Linked DNA regions of Homo sapiens. The protein of the gene in region 2 purifies or fractionates together with the protein of the main gene of each other region. This does not show direct contact. Each region holds a gene or a part of one and is shown on either strand. Other genes may lie near its edges.

The links.
Region 1: the proteins of DNAJC25 (region 2) and LSG1 purify together in Homo sapiens (affinity purification with mass spectrometry, with the first as the bait; one large-scale study listed by BioGRID). This does not show direct contact.

The regions. Positions count from the first base shown.
Region 1 is NC_000003.12:194,669,129-194,674,440, forward strand, and holds the start of LSG1 (large subunit GTPase 1 homolog), read right to left. Parts: upstream 3,064-5,312; 5' UTR 3,035-3,063; coding exon 2,936-3,034; intron 1,008-2,935; coding exon 881-1,007; intron 1-880. UniProt on the Homo sapiens protein: Functions as a GTPase. May act by mediating the release of NMD3 from the 60S ribosomal subunit after export into the cytoplasm during the 60S ribosomal subunit maturation.
Region 2 is NC_000009.12:111,629,559-111,634,616, forward strand, and holds the start of DNAJC25 (dnaJ homolog subfamily C member 25 precursor), read left to right. Parts: upstream 1-1,775; 5' UTR 1,776-1,849; coding exon 1,850-2,185; intron 2,186-5,058. Other genes in the region: DNAJC25-GNG10 protein precursor, read left to right, coding at 1,850-2,185.

The DNA of each region.
Region 1 (5,312 bases), on a different chromosome or scaffold from region 2:
TCCATAGTTAATAATAACACATTTATTAGTTAATAATATGAAATTTGCTAAGACAGTATATATCTTGTTCTCACCGCACACACAAAAAAACAATGTGAGGTGATGGATACGTTAATTACTTGATTTTAGTAATCATTTCACAATATATACATATAACCAAACGTCACACTATATACTATAACTATATACAATTTTTAGTTGCCAATTGTGTAGCTCATTAAAGCTGGAACCCACACATCCCCCCAAAAAACACTAAACAATGAAATCTGAAATCATGTTGTACACGTGCTTAAAGCCCTGTAAAGCCTTAAACCTTTGTTCTCTCCAGAATCTGGCCCTTGCCCACCTCCTCAGCACCTGTGCTCATCACATCCCGCCCCCTGCACCAGCAAAGCCAAACTTCTAGCCATTTTCTGAACAAAGTTGGCTGCTGCTTCACATCTGGGCTCGAGTCCTCTGCCTGTCTGTGTAAAAGGTCTTATCTCATCTGTCCTTTGAACATCTACTCATTGTTCAAGACTCAGGGCGGGCACGGTGGCTCACACCTGTAATCCCAGCACTTTGGGAGGCCAAGGAAGGCGAATCACGAGGTCAGGAGATCAAGAACATCCTGGCCAACATGGTGAAACCCCATCTCTACTAGAAATACAAAAATTAGCCAGGCGTGGCAGTGCGTGCCTGTAGTCCTAGCTACTTGGGAGGCTGAGGCAGGTGAATTGCTTGAACCCAGGAGGCGGAGCTGCAGTGAGCTGATATCACGCCACTGCACTTCAGCCTGGGTGACAGAGCGAGACTCCATCTCAAAACAAAAAACAAAAAAAACCTCAGCCCCAGATGGAAATGTGACAGTCTCACCTGCACTCAGCAATAAACAACTTACCAGCTACAAACTCTGTTCCTGCAAGTTCTGCAGTAGCAAGGAAGTCATCAAGGGAGCTCTGTTCAGTCACTGACTGAAGATTAAGACGACCCCAATCATAGCCATCATTGAGTTCACTTGTGTGCAACTATGAAAAAACACAGGGTGATAAATACAGCTGCTCTCTTCTGCTCTTGGCATCCAATAAGCTCTAAAATTCCTTGCAACTAGTCTATGGTCTTGAGGGTGGTTGTAGTCCCTTTAGAATCAATACTACTTATAGTTAATGTTTAAAGGAACACGTTCTTACCTCACAATAGGCAGTTCCCTTTCACCATTTCATTAATTTTCAAAATCTTTTGAGGTGAATTTTACTGTATTTCCATTTTACTGATGATGAAACTAAGGCTTCAGCAGATAAAATAACTTGCCTATAGTCAAAATCTAAATGGCACAGGTAGAACTTGAACCCAGATTGTCTGACTGTGCTAGTCAAAATTAGTCAAAACTTTATTTGATATAATCCCACAATAAGAAATACATTTTACATAGTGACCCAAAGGTGTATGTACATATAATGATACAAGCATTCAAGTACCGTTCAGTACAGTAAAATGGCAATAGAAGAATACTGAAACCACACCCTATTACATGCAACATTCTGATATTTCTCTATCTTGCTGGGGAAAAAATAAAAACAAAACAAAACAGCTAGCTGCAGACCACTAAATTGACTTCCAGACACAACCCAGAGTTTGATAACCATCACCCTAAGCTATATACTTAGTATAGATACAAATAAAAAAAAATTGCCAGGCGTGGTGGTTTGTGCCTGTAACCCCAGCTCCTCAAGAGGCTAAGGCAGGAGGATTGCTTGAGGCCAGGAGTTTGTGATCAGCTTGGGCAACACAGCAAGACCCTGTCTCTCCAAAACAAACAAACAAAACCAAACAACCAGGCCTGATGGTGTGCACCTGTAATGCCAGCTACTCAAGAGACTGAGGCAGGGGGATTATTTGTGCCCAGAAGTTTGAGACTGTAGTGAATTGGTGAGTTATGATCACACCACTGGCACTCTAGCCTGGGTGACAGAGTGTGACCCTGTCTCTAAAAATGAATAACTGAATGATGAATGAATTTCCTAAATAAATATTAAGGGCCAAAAGTTTAAGTGGGCATAGAATCAGCAAAAATAAGGAATTAGGATCCAATTCTTTACCATTCATGTTCAATCTTCCCACAGTTTCCTAAAAGGCTTCATTAGTAACAAGTTGCTTCAAAGCTAATAAAAATTACCAGTAATCTAATGTCCAGAGTAACTCTGACCTGATGAATACTGATAAGCACTCCATGCTGTTTACTCTGCAGACTATATGGATGAAAGTCAGCTGGTGTGACAGTGGCACACGCTTACTTAGCTCCAGGGACATATTTAACTAAATTTAGCACACGATCTTAGCACTCAACATGTTCTCATTCATTCCCGGGGGAATGAATGGTGAAAATAACGACTAGAATGATGAACACAAGCCAAATCACTTCATTCATTTTTTTAAAGATCCTTCTATAACCTAGTAAAATATTAGGTCTTGTCACACCTGAAAAATCAATGATTTATCTTTGAGCTAAACCACTAGGGGGTGCTTCGCAAGGATGAGGCAAGGATCTGAATTATTTTATATTTCTGGCAGTAACCAACCGCTTCTGGAGGATCCATTCTTTGAACAAATCAATACAAAAATACGTTTTGTCTTTTTCCTGCTCTGGAAGTTCCAAGCACTTCAGTGGCTTCTAGGGCAAAACCCAAACGTACTCAAGACCTGGCATTGAAGACTCTTCAGATTCTCACTCCACGCCTCATCACCACACTAACTCTTCTTTCAAGCTTCTCCTACCTTTGTGTTCTGGGCCTTGCCAGGAGGAGGGCCTGCTACTCAGCTTGGCAGAAACTCCAACTCATCCTTCAAAACCCGGCTGAGGCGTCCCTCCTGCAAAACTTATCTGACTTTTGACCCCGAATTTTGCAGCACTCAGGCTAGACAGAAAAGATAAGAAAGATGACATGGTCTGTCTTACCCAGGAGTCAGTGTGACGATGGCTTCGGCTCCGCTGAGTCTGATGGCGCATAAGGGCCCGTCCCAGCGACCCACCGGCCGGGGCTCTCCTCCGGCCCATGGCAACACGACCGCTGGACGAAGCTTCCCGGCTCGGCGCGTGCAGTTTCCGGGATTCACAGTTCGATCCCCGGAAGTGACGATAAGCGAGCCCAAGTAGTTCAGGCTCAAACTTGAGAGGGGAAAGCAGAATGACTTGTTCTCAAGTTCTCCTTTTACGTCTCGATTTTACCAGTATTATAGAATATAAGTGAAAAAATGGTTCTGGGAAATTTTCGATAGATTTCCTGGCGAATGTCTCGAGTTTGGATAAATGACTGAGTTAAAAGAATGGTCCATTCTTAATTTGTGCGTCGGTCTTTAGCGTCCGGCGAGAAACTAGAGCACGTCGGAAACATGGCGGTTCCTATTCGCGGCACTAGCTCCGCCTTCCGCTGCTTCCGTCAGGAGGACGCGGAGACTCGGAGGAAGAGTGTTTCGGTGGCGCTGGGACGGGGGCGTTTCCCAGCGCTGGTTTTCTGCTGGCGTCCCGAGGTGTGGTCTCTCCGAGGTCCAGCACAGCAACTAACTTTTTGTTTATCTAGCCGACCCCAGCTGCGAACTGGGGAGAAAAGTCTTCGCCTGGATGTGAATTTGGAATGAGAGGCTGAATAGTATTTCCAGAGCTTGGCAAGGTTGTAGGAAAAGCCAACAGGAAGTGACTTACGCTTTATTTCAAAGAAAAAAAAAATGTTTAAACAGTTCTAATTATATTTTCATTACCCTTTTTAAAAATAATTAAAATGAAAGTGAAAACAGTGAGCCAGCTCCACTCCTAGAGGCCTGGGCTTTTGTTCCTCACTTGAATGTTTGATTTCCCTATAATGGGAATAATAGAAAGTCAGCTTAGAGTGGCTGGTGAACTACATTCTCATTGATCCAGAGAACCATCTCTTTGTTTTGATGCTTGGAGAGAGGAAGCAGCTTGAGCAAGTCGTAGATTGAGTGCGTGCAGTGTCAGGAATAAACCCAAGTCTTGTCACTAGCCTGTACACCCCTGGGGAGAGTGGGGAATGAGGGTTGTTAACATGTATTATTTATTTATTTTTATCTTTTGAGACAGAGTCTCGCTGTCCCCCAGGTGGAGTGCAAAGGCATGATCTCGGCTCACTGCAACCTCTGCTTCCCGGGTTCAAGTGATTCTCCTGCCTTAGCCTCCCGAGTAGCGGGAATTACAGACACGTGCCACCGCACCCAGCTAATTTTTGTATTTTTAGTAGAGACAGGGTTTGACTATTTTGGCCAGGCTGGTCTCGAACTCCTGACCTCAGGTGATCGCCCGCCTCGGCCTCCCAAAGTGCTAGGATTACAGGTATGAGCCACTGCGCCTGGCCAAACATGTATTTTTAAATCATAGGATCGAGGTAATGCATATATTACCTAGCATAGCTTGATTTAGCCATTCCACAATGTACACATATATCAAAACATTATGCGGTACAACGTAAGTAATAAACAATTTTTAGTTGTCAATTAAAACAACAGCCAAAAAGAAATAAATAGGATCAAGAATCTGTTTAACCTAGGGCTTTTCACACTTTAATGTGCATATAAATCCCCTGGGAATCTTGTTAACATGCAGATTCTGATTCATAAGCTCTGGGGTGAGGCCTGTGGCTCTAACAAGCTTCCAGGTGATACCCATAGTACTGGTCCTTGGGTCACACTTTGAGTAGCAAGCGTAGTCCACTCTTTCCTGGTGCAAATGAAGACACAGAAGTGGACTGGCTAAAGGTCAGTCATAGCAAGTTAGCATCAGGCGAAACTGGGTCCAGACTCCCACCCATTCTGAATTCCCTGCCAGGGTTTCTGTGTGCTGCACCTTACCCCTCTTACTGAATTGAAGTGAGTTTTGGGAAATGCCCAAGGGACTGCTGGCAAGCTGTGAAGCAGTTGGCAACGCTTTGAGAAGGCAGTGCTCACAGATGAGCAAAGGAATGCATCAGAACATCATTTCTCCCATTTCTCAATTTAGAAACAGTGTATCTTTAAAATCCTACACATAATCTCCAGAAGTAAGATATGAAGAAGACCCACGAAATAGAATTAGCAGACAGCTCCCGGCATTCTCTCCAGAGCTAAGTGGTTAAAGGTCAAACTAACTCATGAAGTAAGATTTCACATTTTAATAATAATACTAGGAGGTGAGATAAAGAAACTCACCATCTCATTCCTAGAGCTCAACCAGGAACTTGGGACTTCATCTAGTTTCTTTTTCCAGATTTTGTCACCTCTGGAGAAAATAAACACTTTGGTTTTCCACTGTTACTTTTCTAAGGGCTTAAAAAATCTTGACCAAA
Region 2 (5,058 bases):
TGGCTTTCTCCAGTTTCATCTCCTACACTCCTTACCTCTACTCCTAGTCATATAGGTTGTCTTTCATTTTTTGAAAAGCTTTATTATTATTTTTTTCTTGCCCATGGCTCGTTTCTCTTCTTGGTACTTATTTCACACTCCCTTGTCCCCAAACTCCTCTCTAATTCACATCCTTCAAGCCATTCTCTATTCGTCCTCCAAAGTCAGTTTAGCTGTCAGCTCCTACTGGAATTGATGCTTGTAATTGATCCCGATCCTAATAATTTCAGGAGACCCTCCCATGTGTTTCCATTCATTTTATCTTTCTCATTATATATATATATAAGCATATATATAAGCCATATATAAGCATATATAAACATATATGAGATACAAATGTAAATAAGCATATATGATACACAAAATTGTTATTATATATATAACTTTTGTATCTCATTACATATACATGTATCTCTCTCATTACATATATAACTGTATATGTTGCTATATAGTCCCATGCAATATTTAGTGGGCTGAGGTGAAAAATAGACACATATATGTTATATATGTAATGACAGAGACATATATGTGTAATGAGATTATATATATTATATATGTAATGAGGGAGATATATGTAATGAGAGATATATATTTATTCAATGAGAAATACAAAATTATAATGTATATTCATTATGTATTATAAGTATATAATGCTATGTATCAGTATTTGATTTCACTTTATTAAAAGAGTTGATTATATCTGAACGTTTATTTATTTGTTACTGACTGTCATCCTCCATCAGAATATATGCTCTCTGAAGTTGAGCTTCTTGTTTACTTTGCTCACCACTGTATCCCCAGTGCCTAAGTAACAGTGCCCGGCTCAGAGTAGAGACTCAATAAACATTTACCAGATGAATGATAGAAACAGATTTTTTGAGGCAAAGTTTTTCATGTTGCCATATAGTCCCATGCAATATTTTGGACATACTTATACTAAAAAATTATTATCTGAAATTCAAATGTAGGCCGGGCACGGTGGCTCACGCCTGTAATCCTAGCATTTTGGAAGGATCGCTTGATCCTTCCAGCAGGTTGTCCCGGGAACGCGCAGCCCAAGGTGGACGCACAGACCCGCGTACAGAGATTTTTTATTGTCATGACTGGGGGTGGTGGCACTACTGGCATTTAGTGTGGAGAGGCCAGATATGCTGCTAAACATCTTACAATGCAAAGGGCAGCCCCTCAAAGGCAAAGAATTATCTGGTCTAAAATGTCAATAGCGTGGAGGCTGAGAAAAACTGAACTAGATGGCTATGAACTTTCAGGGTCCCTACCTAGTACACAGGCAGCGCCTAGAATTGCTAAGTTCATCTTCCGTTTGGAAAGGCAGCATGGGGTTAGTGAGAGGAAGGCGCCCGGGGCTGGTGGCTGGCTTTAAAGGCCTACGTGCAAATCTTCTTGACGCTGATAACGGGATGCGAGAGAGCCAGGTAGGTTACCTATTGCAGCAGGTCAAGTGATGATGTCGAAAAGGATGCGTGTGCCGGACACTGTGGAAGGTAAAGCGCTCCGCACAGCCCGCCTAAGTGCGCCCGGGACAGAGCCATCCCCCAGGTGCTACCAAACAAATCCTCCAGCTGCTGGTACGGGGAAGGTGTTCAGTGACACACCGGAAGCAGCCTAGTGGCTGAGGCGTCCTTCTCCCTACCAACGGGTTGCGAAGGAAGTAGTTGCTGTAGCCGCGCCCTGTGCGCCTGCGCGGAGGCGTCGGCTGCTGACGTGTAGCTGGGGCCAGACGGGACTAGCCGGGCGCGCGGCTGAGTGCTGCAGAATCGCTGGGGTGGCAGAGCCGCCAGCGAGGCTGGGGATGGGGGCGCCGCTGCTCTCTCCCGGCTGGGGAGCCGGGGCTGCCGGCCGGCGCTGGTGGATGCTGCTGGCGCCCCTGCTGCCGGCGCTGCTGCTGGTGCGGCCCGCGGGGGCCCTGGTGGAGGGGCTCTACTGCGGCACGCGGGACTGCTACGAGGTGCTGGGCGTGAGCCGCTCGGCGGGCAAGGCGGAGATCGCGCGGGCCTACCGCCAGCTGGCCCGGCGCTACCACCCTGACCGCTACCGGCCCCAGCCCGGAGACGAGGGCCCCGGGCGGACGCCGCAGAGCGCCGAGGAGGCTTTCCTGCTGGTGGCAACCGCCTACGAGACACTCAAGGTGAGGCCTGCGGGCGTGGAGGGGCTTCGAAGACTGGCCGCGGGAAGCCCACGGCGCCTTCCGACCCCGGTCCGCGGAGCGTGGGCCTCTGTGACCCCGAAACTGAGCACAGCCACCACCGCGACCTTTAAGATACTCACGTTTCCCACGTGGCCCTGTGAAAGAGCCGAGTCGGCCCCACGGGGCCTTGGGGGGCACAGCTAGCCTCCTTGCCCTCTTCCTTTTTGTGACATTGTTATGCAAAACTTTGGCCATCTTACGATTTCGTGAAAATATTTTAATAACGTGCATTTCACATTCGAAAAGCAGGGTGATCATTATTAGTAGGATCTGGGGTAGCCCACAACAGGGAAAGTCTCGAATATCAAGTGACAACTGTGATCGCATCAGTTTGATATGACAGAAAATTGGTTTCTGGAAATAGTGTTAATGGTGACGCTTAGTTTGGGTTTAAGGAACTAAGAAAACACTGAGAAGAACAATGAACACCAGTCAAAAGGCTGGATGTGAGTCTTTGCTGTGACACCCCTGTATGACCTTGGATAGTGACTTATTATGTTGAAATAGCTGTTTCTTCATATGCAAAATTAAGGCCATGATACCTCCTCTCAGAGTTATTATGGGGATTAAATGATAAGTGTGCGAACCGCCCCCCTTTCCATAGGATCCATAAATAGGTGCTTAATGACTTGGGTACAAAACTCTGAGAATTTCTAGTAGGAAATATTTTGTGAATATGTATTTGTATTTCATTTGACAGGTTTTATTGAGTCTTGTGGGGATGAGAGATTTAGCCCGATGCTGTTTTCTTCTACTACTGCAAAAAATCAAACCATCTAGGACATCACGAAGTATAAATCGTACTTGATGGTGGTATTACTGCTTGAAGGGCCCCATCATACTAATGCGTCAGCGATTGTAGTTGTAAAGTATTTCTTTTCTAGCCTTTTTTTTTTTTTCCCGAGGCAAAATTTTCTATGTTGCCAGGTAGCCTGCTTTTAATGATTGTACTTTGAGTGGATATAATTTTACCTTGGATTGTTCCTCCAGATTGTTTTTCCAGAGCTGAAAATAGTCAAGGAGCTAACAACTTTATTGATGCCTTCCAGAGCAGTTTGGATAATTTGGAGTCATAAAATGAGTGGTGGAGGGGCGGGCCCTGAACTAGGTAAACTAGGTGAATTGAACTAGGTAAAATTTAATTTACCTAGTTCATTAAATTCTCACTAGCGTTAGTGAGATTGTAATTTTTATTGGCAGTTAACTGAGGGATGGCTGGGGAACTGGGAAAGTGCTGAGGCCCCAAAGGGCTTTGTTGCCGATTATGTAAAAAGTGATGGAAAAAAGACTCCAGAAAAAATAGGAAAGAACTCTCCATCCAAGGCACTTCAGCATATGAAGCTCCAACCTCTGTTCCTTGTAGTCAGCCAGAAGCCCTGCTGGTGCGTGAGGGAGCCCTGGACCAGTGTGTGAAATCATAATGGGATTTACTAGGGATAGTAAAATTGATAGGATTAGGGATGTTAATCATGTTAATTTGTTTCAGGCGCGAGATGGTAATAAGGTTGTGGTGCTTGAATTTAGGTTGAGTGTCAGGAATGCAGTAGTTGTTAGGATGATATAGATAATTAGGTTAAAGATAGTGATATTTGGATTGTATATCAGTTATCCCATTATGATTTCACACACTGCTTTATAAACTAAGACCATGCAATAGTATTTAGTGTGTTTGACTTTTGGGGATTTAGGGAGTTTATGGACTTTGGAAGTTAAACAAGTGGACGCTTACCCTCTGTGTCAACCCATCTTCTGGAAGATGGAGAACTTCCAGAAGAGAGGGCAGCAGAAACACTGCCAGCTGTTGCCTTCTGCTGGGCTTTGTAGGAGTGGAGATGAGTAGTTTTGGCATGAGAATGGTGAGCATGTTGGTAAGAACTTTGAAAACAAGTGCCATGATTAGAGGGTAGAAATAGTGATGGTAGAGATTCCTGCTGGGAGGGCCACCAGGAGAGACTGATCAGTGCCCCCATCCCGGAACTGATCTGATGAATCTATATGGTTGCCTCTAAAGGTTTCTACCCCTAAAGTTTACCACTCATTGTCAGCTAATGAAAAGCTAGATAAAATAAGTGATCCACTCAAGATCAAGGAACGTTTAGGCAGTTAAAGACCAGTATGTCTGGAGTAGGTAACACTTGTACTCTTGACTCTGACGGGTTTGTGATAGCTACAAATATCTTGGAACAGGGGAGTGGAAGTGGAGTTGTACTGGTGGAGGAGGGAATGAGGGGAGTGTTCTGTAGCTCCCCCAGAACGCCCACTGTCTTACTGTGGAAATTATCTGTGAGACAAAAGGGATGTCTGGAGATATTTTGGACCCTGGAAAATCAGACCCAGCAGAACTCTTTGAAAACTTGCATTTTAAATTTATGGAGATGAACATATATTCATCTTCCAAGTGGAGCACCTCCAAGAACTATTTACCTCATTGAAGATGCTCTCTCTTGGAATAAGGATAAGGACTTTGACTTGCTGTCTGTGGGAGCAATTATTACAGGGTGGTCTGCTTTAACTTCTGTCATAACGGAGAATTGTGAGGAAGTTGCCAAAGAATATGTTTTCTGGGTAATGCAAGGTTTTAATGAACTGAGGTCATCCAATTTGGAGGGCTTCAGCCTTGCACATTATCCGTTGAGGCAATGGAGATGTAATGGCTGTTTGTTTGGATTGTATCCTCCGGCTGTAAAAAGGGTTTGTGAAGGATAAAAGGTCCAGGTGGCGTTTGCTAAGAGCAGGTCAGATAGAATAGTGGGAGAAGCTGAGTTCCAGTGGCTCTGGAATAAAAACGGGATGCAGAAGCCTGTATCTGAATG